3 linked regions of the Homo sapiens genome follow. The protein of the gene in region 2 interacts with the protein of the main gene of each other region in a biochemical or structural test. Each region holds a gene or a part of one and is shown on either strand. Other genes may lie near its edges.

The links.
Region 1: the proteins of ARHGEF26 (region 2) and SNTG1 interact in a test that uses a peptide from one of them, tested with the Homo sapiens proteins (one large-scale study listed by IntAct).
Region 3: the proteins of ARHGEF26 (region 2) and PDZD2 interact in a test that uses a peptide from one of them, tested with the Homo sapiens proteins (one large-scale study listed by IntAct).

What each region holds. Positions count from the first base shown.
Region 1 is NC_000008.11:50,792,817-50,796,472, forward strand, and holds part of SNTG1 (gamma-1-syntrophin), read left to right. Parts: coding exon 1-13; 3' UTR 14-3,656. UniProt on the Homo sapiens protein: Adapter protein that binds to and probably organizes the subcellular localization of a variety of proteins. May link various receptors to the actin cytoskeleton and the dystrophin glycoprotein complex.
Region 2 is NC_000003.12:154,187,333-154,190,988, forward strand, and holds part of ARHGEF26 (rho guanine nucleotide exchange factor 26), read left to right. Parts: intron 1-352; coding exon 353-505; intron 506-3,656. UniProt on the Homo sapiens protein: Activates RhoG GTPase by promoting the exchange of GDP by GTP. Required for the formation of membrane ruffles during macropinocytosis. Required for the formation of cup-like structures during trans-endothelial migration of leukocytes.
Region 3 is NC_000005.10:32,083,127-32,086,782, reverse strand, and holds part of PDZD2 (PDZ domain-containing protein 2), read right to left. Parts: intron 1-3,656.

The sequences.
Region 1 (3,656 bases), on a different chromosome or scaffold from region 2:
GTATACAACTTGACATACTGAACTCTTCATTGACACACCCCATGACTGTATAAGCAGGACACATTTACTCATCATTTTAGACCCTAGAGAAACCATAACATCACCAAGTCGACAGTGGAGGCAAATCAAAATTTCGGCAGAAAAAGAAGGTCATGTGGAACCTCAAAAACACTTCTATTCTGGATGACATCTGTGAAATATACTACATGAACAGAACAGCTTGTTCTCACTCAGTTGCTTTGTACCAGTAAGTGTATTGCTTTCACCAAAAGTGGAGACAAAAGAATAAATTATTTGAAGAAGTATGTAAATAACATAAAAATAGTAAGCTACCTATGAATAAAAATACTTATTAAATGATTACTTCTGTATTTTAGATTATTTTGTATGACTAGTACATGTTGGGCAGAGTCATAGGAAAACAAATGCCCTATCTTGTATTATGAGGGACATAAAAGAGTTAAAAACCATAAATCAGCAAGGAGCATGCAAAAAAATCTCATCAAAGAAGGATGCACTTTAATTTGCTGATGTAAATTTGCCCTTGTGTTCTCATCCCATGATTTGACACTGGCATTCCAATTGTTTTTATCTTATTGTAAATATTCCGAAGAACTTCCAAAGGATAATTACATTGACCCATGATAGATACAATGTGAAATGGACTATTCTCCCTTGGATCACTGTTATTGAAATGTCTTATTAGCTGCCAAAGTCAATCAAATATGCCAACAGTGTATTAATTTAATTATGAGTGATGGAAAATTTCATGAACCTCTCATTTCTTCCTTGGTTTGAAAGAGATTTGTATTTTACCTAATAAGATTTATTATCAAATTAAAGTTTCATAAATTTTCAGTGAACCCAAAACCTTTTGTAGAGAAAATAATATAAACAAATATGGTGTGAGAAACAATTCTTTGTAATCCGAAGTCTACTAGTTAATCATGAACTAAAATGTCCCCCGAAAACAGTCCCAAAGCTATTATAGATGTTAATTAAATGACATTTTTTCATTTTAGTACTATTTTATGAGAAACAAAGGTGATATTTAAAGATAAAAGTTAAAATTCTTTAACCTCCCTTGTCATGGAAAGTGATTAAGTAATGCCAACTATGCAGGTTGTTTTAGGTATTTTGTCCTAAGAATGTAAATGTGAAAGGCTGGGAAATTTGAAAGCCTTAGAGGTGTGCAATTTACTCAGATTCCAGGTATTATTCAACTAGTTGTATAACATGGAACACAGTCTCTGTCCTTCAGTACAGCTTTTTTGAGATATTTTAAAAAGTCAGCTGTGTATGTAAAAAAAAAAAAAAATTTTTATTGATACACATGCTCCCAGGTAAACCAAGTATTATGTGTGTCCTTGTGGAGATAACCAAGTATCTAATAAATTGATTCAATTTTTTTTTTCAAATATGTTTTTAAAAATCACTCAAGAAGGAAACAAAGTGATTTCTATAAAGGACAGATTTACTAATTTAAAAAATTAATATCAAGTTGTTTTTATACTCATGATTCATTAATTTATTTTGCATCAGATTAATTTGTAAATACATCAAATTGAAAAGAAAAAGTGAGGGTTTATAATTGTCCCTGGGAAAATGTTAAACTGAATCTAACATACCTTACCCAAAGAACTGTGGCAAATTACAATAAACAGTTTCAGTGTAATGTATTTTGACCGTAAAACTAAGTACACATTTGTAATTAGGATAGAACTTTAGAATTATTGCACACTATATTGATCAAATACAACAGTCATTGTAAAATTGAAACCCACCAAAAGCAGCCTTCAGTAGTAGGCCACTTCTGAACTTATGGAGAAAAAGCAGTGGGATACATCGAACTTAGAATTTTCAGCTGTGGCAAGTGGTTCATTATGGAACTTCTGCTTCCAACCAGAGCTGAATCTCAGTGTGCCCCATATTGGGGTTACATGAATGTGTCCACAATCTGGAAGGCAATATGACATGGGCTAATTATCCATAAGCAAAAGAAAAACGTTTCAACAGTTTACCTACCTGTAATAGAATGATTTAAAAATTGTGAAATTTTGTAAACGTTCCATTTTAGAATTTAAAAAACCTATTAACCATTAGCTATCTTTTTAGTGTTATTATGAAAATTTAGCCTATGCTCATGTGTGTTACGAAGGAAAAGGTGCACAATGAGATATGTATAAATATATATCTCCTCAGAGAATACACACACACCTACATATGTATTTATATGCATACATGGGTGTATATATATATAAATATAATGAAATGCTGACCATTAATTATATTAGAAGAATGTTTTGTGTACATACATTTAATATACTTTAAATTACGTTGTAAAATGTAGCTTGATTAAAAACTTATGACAATACCATTATGAATATTTTTGATACTATTGATAAAAAACATAAGCCGTGATTTTTATTTAACATGATTAGTACAACAGCCAAAAAGTAACAAAATACTATTCTCGTTTTCATCAGTTTAACAATTAGTATTTAATGTTTTCTTTACAATGTGGTGATTAGTCATTGGCATTTGTTATAACTTGGACTACTTGAATGAGAAAGCTTTGAAATGAACAAAAACACTTAAAAATTTCTATCTCTCATATAATTTAGGTTTACATGTAAGAGATTTATTCATAAAATCCTAGTTTGTACATTAAGCACATTTTAACAGCAAAATGCTAATGTGTTAACCCCTCCAGTGCCTTGGTATGTGTGAGCGTGTATGTGTGTTTGGGTGTGTGTCTGTGTATGTGTGTGAGTGTGTAAGTGTTATCATTAAAGGGTTCATTACAGTGTACATAACACAAGCTTAATGGAGAATATTGTAGGTATTTAGGTCAGAGAATGAAGTTCAAAGTCATTTGAAAACTGCTAACTACTATAATAATGTCTTTTGCCTGATAAAGAATAACAATTCATCTAAGTCGAAGTATATTACAGAAAGGGCATTTATAATTTGTTAAAATGCAACAAGTATTTATTTAAAAAATAGTTTAATAGATAGTGTAAGTGTAATGTATATCTGAACACTTATCCAGCTTTTTTAAAATGGGAGGATAATCAGGTAATTATTTCTTGCCCATATTTCAGGCATGTACCAACTTATAATTTTGAAATCTTCGCTCATAAAGCTGTCATTCAGCAAGAAAAAGAAAGCAATTACTTGAAAATAAATGTCAAGTCCATATTAGCCATGCAAAGAGAGAAATTTTCCTTTGGGTGCATTAGTTTATAGATCAACATTTCCCTCATTTACAGTGCTGAAGCTTGATCATGAACTTTGTCTATGTTGAATGCTGGATTTAAGAAAAGCTTGATTTATTACTGAGAAAAATTAATAATCCTAACGATAATTTAGAATTACTGCTAGAAATCAGCAGTGTGGAGAAGCTTTAAAAGCACAAGGATGATCTTGTGCTTAACTTTTTAAGGTAAGTGTAGATGTTCGGATACTAATAACAAAGATTTTGCTACTATTAATATTGCTGTGCTCATAATTTCTCCTTATGAAATTGCTTTATTCATACTTCTAAAATTGTTCTTTATTGTTTATTCTTACTACCGAATACTTTAAAATCATAATGCCACTTATTTGCACATTTGAATTTGCTTTTGAAAATAAAATATTATAAATGTTATATA
Region 2 (3,656 bases):
GCAGAGCAGATCAATGTTTGAAGCCAAACACTTGAAGCAATAACTTGATTTTTTTTTTTTTTTTTTTGGTTTTGTCTTGTCTTGAACTCCTGGCCTCAAGTGATCTTCCTGCCTCAGCCTCCCAAAGTGCTGAGATTATAGGCGTGAGCCACAATGCTCATCCTCAAGGAGGTGTTAATATGATAGATTTAAACTTAGATAAAATTTTTATAGATTTTAAAAATATTTTTTAGTTGGTACTGTGTACTGTTGAATTTTCAAACCCCGTGTAATAACATTACATGAGGCTAATCTGTTATCTGTTAGAGTGTATGAAAGAAGTGTTAATTTTTTTTTCCCTTTGGTTTTTCAGGTTCTTTATAGAGTTGGAAGCAAGACATCAGAATAATATCTTCATAGATGACATAAGTGACATTGTGGAAAAACACACAGCATCCACATTTGACCCATATGTGAAATACTGCACAAATGAAGTCTACCAACAACGAACACTACAAAAATTGTTGTAAGCAATGTCGAATGCTACAGTTTTAATCATCTAACCTAGTTTTAATTAGGCTACATTGACTGAAATTAATTGATCTTTTGAATTATATTTAGAAATGCCTCCTGATAGGCTATTTCCCAGAGGAGAAATGTTTAAGAGCATTACTTTTAGGGTGAGGGTGTTTAAGTAGAAAAATCTAGTGTGTAGAGAATTTTCTCTCTTACGAAATTATAGCTTGTTATTGATGTCCTTGTTTAGTGTTTCGTTGTTTTTAATTGTTGCAGGAAACAGAGGTGGTCCTCACTCTAAACCCGCAGTTTTCTAAGCTTTTTACTGGCAATTAAGTGGTTTTCCTGAGGCTTAGAGGGGATTCTTGAGTTGATTGAGCTAAAAGCTAAGATTCAGAGTTTTCTCTACTATTCTGATCTCCCTCCATTCAATTGACAACGATAATAAATTGTTCATAAAAATTGCTGATTATTCCCCCCACTTGGGTAGTTAGAGTTGAAGAGAGGAGGGAAGTTCTGAAGGAAAGCAGTAGAAAAAAGTAATGTTCTTAAAGATTTCAGTTATGCAGCAAAAGAGTTAAGCATTAGATTTCCTGCCACATCTTTTCTTTTTGTCCTTTTTAGGTTACTGAGAGTTTTGATGTGATGCATATGCCATCTGTGTCCTTAAAAGAGTCACCAATTGTTCAGTAATGCCTATATGTATTTTAAAGAGTCCTGTTTATCACAAGTAGCTGTTTTACAGCACAGTTGTGCACTGCTGTAAACCCAGTTTGGGAGCTTAATGGCTGTTATCGTTCTCACCCCCTCCTGTGAGTTGTGGCATTTATGACCACGGCATGGAGCTTCGGTCAACTTCTGTGCAATATGTGAGACCCCTATGGAGGAGTAGGGGTTGAGGATGACTAACTTATGGCTGCTTGGAGAAATAGTCAAAGCCTCTAAGCTGATGAGAAGGGCTGATGATGGCCCCCTTTTTCCTCCACATCTTCATGACATTTTCATATAGCCAGGGTGGAAAACACACAGCTGCTAACCCCAATGAGATTTTTAGTATAAAGCAGGGTTTGTTCGCACAATTGACATTTTGGACTGGATAAGTCTTTGTGGTGGGCTGTCCTATGCATTTTAAGATGCTTAAGGGCATCCCTGGCTTCCATCTGCTAGATGCCAAAAATCTCCCCAGACATTGCAGAAGGTCCCCTGAGGGTAAAACCACACCCATCACTTCCTCACTCCACCACGCCCTGGTGGGAACCGCTGCTATAGGAACAGAGGTTCTCTGTAACTGTTAGAGAATGCAAGTTCATGTCTGAAAACAAAGCCTTGAATTAGAGATAAATTTGGGTTTCATTTTGTTTTGCAGGATTTAAAAAATGTCACTAGGTACTGCTATACATCATGTGACTCTTAAAGGTTTTATCTAAATTAGCTTAATGATAACATCATCAGCACTTTCACGTGGCAATTAGTAGTGTTTTCAGGGGATTTGTTGCAGTTGATGTGATTTTTTTTTTTTTTTTTTTTTGAGATGGAGTCTCACTCTGTCACCCAGGCTGGAGTGCAGTGGCGCAATCTTGGGTCACTGCAACTTCTGCATCCCAGGTTCAAGCGATTCTCCTGCCTCAGCCTCCCGTGTAGCTGGGACTACAAGTGCATGCCACCACACCCAGTTAATTTTTTGTATTTTTAGTAGAGACTGGGTTTCACCGTATTAGCCAGGATGGTCTTGATCTCCTGACCTCGTGATCCACCTGTCTCTGCCTCCCAAAGTGCTGGGATTACACGCGTAAGCCACTGCGCCCAGCCCGCAGTTTATGTGAATTTAAGGTTAGAACAGTGGCTTTCAATTCTAGCTGCATGTTAGAAATGCCTTGGGGCCTGAAAATGAGCAAATGTACACTGTCCAGAGTCCATCCCAGACTATTTAATCAGAACCTTTGGAAGGTGAGGGAGGGGACTGGGACCTGAGTTATTTAAATATACAACTAATTTAGAGGTTTTTGTTTTTTTTTTTTAACTTTCTAAAAATCTTGTCAAAGCTATCAGTAAAAGGAAACTTAAAACTTCTCAATTAGAGAAAATGGAAATGAATTGTTTCTGTATAATTTCTTTTCATTTGCTATTCTGGCATTCTCCCCCTCCCTGCTTTTAGTAGCAGCCTTGAACAAGATTATTTAATTTTCAAAATAACATTTTTTTTAAAAAAAATGACTGCTATTGTCACTATCCTGCTTCCTTCTCCCTTCATGGGAGTACAATATCCATCTACCTCCTACCCTCCTTGCCTTGGAAAGTGGCAGTGGAACTCTACAGAGCTCCTCATGGGATGAAGTGAGGTAAGAGAGTGAGAAATGGGGGGACAAGAGTGTCAGATTTAACATTAGAAAACTTGGGTTTGAGGCCAGGCACAGTGGCTCACGCCTGTAATCCCACCACTTTGGGAGGCCGAGGCAGGTGGATTACTTGAGGCCAGGAGTTCGAGACTACCCTGGCCAACATGAAACCTTTTCTCTACTAAAGATACAAAAATTAGCTGGGCGTCATGGCACACACCTGTAATCCCAGTTACTTGTGAGGCTGAGGCATAGAATTGCTTGAACCTGGGAGGCAGAGGCTGCAGTGAGCCGAGATTGTGCCATTGCACTCCAGCCTAGGTGATAGAGCAAGACTCCATCTCAAAACAAACAAACAAACAAACAAACCTGGGTTTGACTTCTGTCTTTGGCAGTTACTAAGTCATATTTACTTGGTGAGGTAGGGACCTTTCTGCATTCCATTTTCTTACTGGAATCCCTATCTGGCCTTCCTTAAAAGTTACGTAGGTGGTTCCACATGAAAGAATGTATGTCACAGTATCTCGCTAAGTTTCATTAAAATGTTATAGCAGCATTAATACTTTTCTTGCATTAACAGGAGAAAAAGAGGAATATTTCGACTGATGTGATGAAAAGGTTTTCTGTCTCAGAAAGAGGATCTTTGTGGCCTAAAGCCTCTGAAGTCCAGTCTAACTGTTAATTTCTTATGCCATTGTCTAGGGCTGGAGAAGTGGCTTAAAACATATTATTTATGATCTTATTAATGATATATGTTTATAGATGATCGGATATAAAAGACCTAGTCTGTATACTGATTTATGACCCATATATTCACCATTATGA
Region 3 (3,656 bases), on a different chromosome or scaffold from region 2:
ATTGCTTGAACCTGGGAGGTGGAGGTTGCAGTGAGCCGAGAATGTGCCATTGCACTGCAGCCTGGGCAAAAAGAGCGAAACTCCGTCTCAGAAAACAACAACAACAACAACAACAACAAAACGGCGTTCTGTGGCCTAAATGGAGGCCCTTCTTGTCTTCCTGGTTTTCTCTCTAAAATTATAGAGTACCCACATCTAACAAATACCACCCTGCTTTAGACGCTCTAAGAGAACTCAGATTAGCCGGCAGAAGAAACATTTACATCTGCCCATTTTTCTCTCTTTTGGTATTTCTATGATGGCAGATGTTCCTACCACAAAGAAATGATACATTTGATGTGATGGATATGCTGATTACCCTGATTTAATCATTGCACACTTGGGTCTCTTTATGCCATTCACCCTCTGATGGCAAAGCCGCAAGCGTCAGGCTCTTGTTCTATTTGGTTCCCTACTCCTGCGTGGATGCAGCAGGGCCCTCATGGACCTCTCAGTCCCAGTATCTGGCCAGTGGTGTGTGGGTTTGGCTCACACTGGGGGATGTGAATGATGTACTTCAGTGTAAAACAGTCCAAGTGCCGAGCTCAAGAGGCTTCCTTTTTAGTGCAGGGGCTGAGGCTAACTAGGGAAAACATACAGAATACGAAAGCTGGGATACAGGTCTACACCGAGCTCTGGCTGTCTTGACGAATTCAGAGGAGTGGGAGAGTGAGAAGCCAGATTATCCCAGGAAGACTTGACAGAGGAGGTGGGGACATGAATGGGGCTGACAAGGGGAGTTTGGCCAGAGAGTGAGGAGGAGGAAGGTAAGGAAGACAATGGAAGAGTACCGTTAAAATGTCCATACTACCCAAAGTCATCTATAGATTCGGTACAATTCCTACCAAAATTCCAATGACATTTTTTACAGAAATAGAAAAAAAAAAAACAGTTGTAAAATGTGCATGGAACCACAAAGGACTCTGAATAGCCAAGGCAGTTTGAGTGTAAAAAAAACAAAAGACAAAACAAAACAACAACAACACAACAAAAACAGGGCTGGGCATGGTGGCTCACGCCTGTAATCCCAGCACTTTGGGAGGCCAAGGCGGGTGGATCACCTGAGGTCAAGAGTTCGAGACCAGCCTGGCCAACATGGTGAAATTCCCGTCTCTACTAAAAATACAAAAATTAGCTGAGTGTGGTGGCACACGCCTGTAATCCCAGCTACTTGTGAGGCTGAGGCAGGAGAATCGCTTGAACCTGGGAGGTGGAGTTGCAGTGAGCCAAGATCATGCCATTGTATTCCAGCCTGAGTAACAGAGCAAGACTCCGTCTCAAAAAAAAAAAATAATAATAAGGTATTGCATTTATTGAAATAGCTAGAAGAGAGAATTTGGGATGTTCCTACCACAAAGACATGATACATTTGATGTGATGGATATGCTAATTACCCTGATTTAATCATTGCACAATGTATATATGTACTGAAGTACCACTTTGTGCTCCATAAGTATGTACAATTATGTGTCAATTAAAAAAAAAAAAAGGCAGCTGGGCACGGTGGATCACGCCTGTAATCCCAGCACTTTGGGAGGCCAAGGCAGGTGGATCACTTGTCAGGAGTTTGAGACCAGCTTGGCCAACATGGTGAAACCCTATCTCTACGAAAAATACAAAAATTAACCAGGCATGGTGGCATGCACCTGTAATCCCAGCTACTTGGGAGGCTGAGGCACGAGATTCGCTTGAACCCAGGAGGTAGAGGTCAGTGAGCTGAGATTGCACCACTGCCTTCAAGCCTGGGCAACAGAGCAAGACTCTGTCTCAAAAAAAAAAAAAAAAAAAAAAAAAAGGCAACAGAATGAAAGCAGAGAAGCAAGAAAGAGCCTGAAATCTTGGAGGTGGCAGGGCAAGGGGATGTGTGCCAGTGGACAGTGGGAAGTCATCTAGGAGGTGGGTTCCAACAGCCACTCACTCCTGAAAGTGCCTGTTCATAAGGCCCTGCATAGTCTTGGGCTAATCTTCCACCTCAGACACACAGCATCTTGCAACAGGGAAAAAAAATCTGGCATCAGAAAGAACAAAGCTATTTTCTTAGGAACTATGGGTCTGAGGTTGGAGTGAAAAATGAAGTTCCATGAAAGCTCTTGGTTTGAGAATTAAGTCAAACCAACTCTTCCCCAAATATTATGTTCGTTCCACAGCTCTCACATAAAATCATCTTAATTGCATTTTTTTAACCTGCTGACCTTGCTATGTGAATAATTAAGAACTAATTATTAGGACTCAGCCCTGTGCTAAGAGGTTTTCCAATAATTAAGGAGTTAACACTGTGCTAAGAGTTTTGTACACATTTAATTTTCCTCCTAACACTGAGGTATGTCCTGTGACCATCTGCATTGGAAGGATGAGGACGGAGAAACAGCGTGGTTAAGCAATGTGTCTGAGGTCAGAGTTCACAGGTGGCAGAGCCAGCGGTCGCCCCAGGAAGCTGGCTCCACAGCCCATGCTACTGCCTAAACCCTGACTATGTGGCCTCTGTGTGGAGAGCCCTTGGCAATCAAAAGGTTGGATCGTCGAGATCCCCATGGAGACCGTACTAGCTACTAGCTTTCCAGGCCCACTGTGGAAGGCCAGGGGCCTGCCAAGACTCAAAGCCACGTGCTCTTCTCCTTCTCTGCTCAACCTTTTTTGAACTTCCCCTTAAGCATAATGTTCCTGCTTCTGGTGACAGCAAATATGGGCGGTAGTGCGGGTGGTGGTGGGGAGTAGCAATGACACAAAAGGAGGGGATTTAAACTCTGTTTTTAAATTTCATATTCAGGCCGTGGGCGGTGGCTCATGCCTGTAATCCCAGCACTTTGGGATGCTGAGGCCAGGCAGATCACTTGAGGTCAGGAGTTCGAAACCAGCCTGGCCAACATGGGGAAATCCCATCTCTACTAAAAATACAAAAATTAGCCAGGTGTGGTGGTGCACGTCTGTAATCCCAGCTGCTTGGGAGGCTGAGGCAGGAGAACTGCCTGAACCTGGGAGGCGGAGGTTGCAGTGAGCCGAGATCGAGCCACTGTACTCCATCCAGCCTGAGCGACAGAGCAAGAATCCGTCTCAAAAATAAACAAATTTCATATTCGCTCACTGAATAAACCTAAACAGGCAATTCATGTTAGCAATTTGACTTTATTGCAAAGTCTGTAACTTAAAAGGTCTTCATCTGAGGGAGACGAGGTTACACTGAGGCAGCCTTTGGTTGTCACCTTTCAAGACAACCTTTTCTCTGGAAACGTTCGAAATGCCCAATCATGGGAGGAAGGTTGACTCGTTACAGCACATCCGTGGGGTGGAAGGCCCAGCAGCCTCTCCAGGTGATGTCGGGTGTAGAAGAGCCTGCAGGATAGCAGTGCGGTTTCCTAGAGTAGGCTATGGGTGTGCTGACAGCAGAGTGGTCAGTGCGAGGGACAGCCTGCTAGGTCAGGCCCATGGGCTGAGGAGCAGTCTTACTGATGCCAGCAGGCTGCTCAAATATTATTTCGTGTGGATGTATGAGGTTTAAAAAGGTTGTTAGGTACTGGTGACTACCACAGTGGATTTTTTTTTTTTTTTTGGCAAAAAGACAAAAAAAGCACAGGACTATATATTTATTCACACCCATATACGCACAAGACTCAAATGAT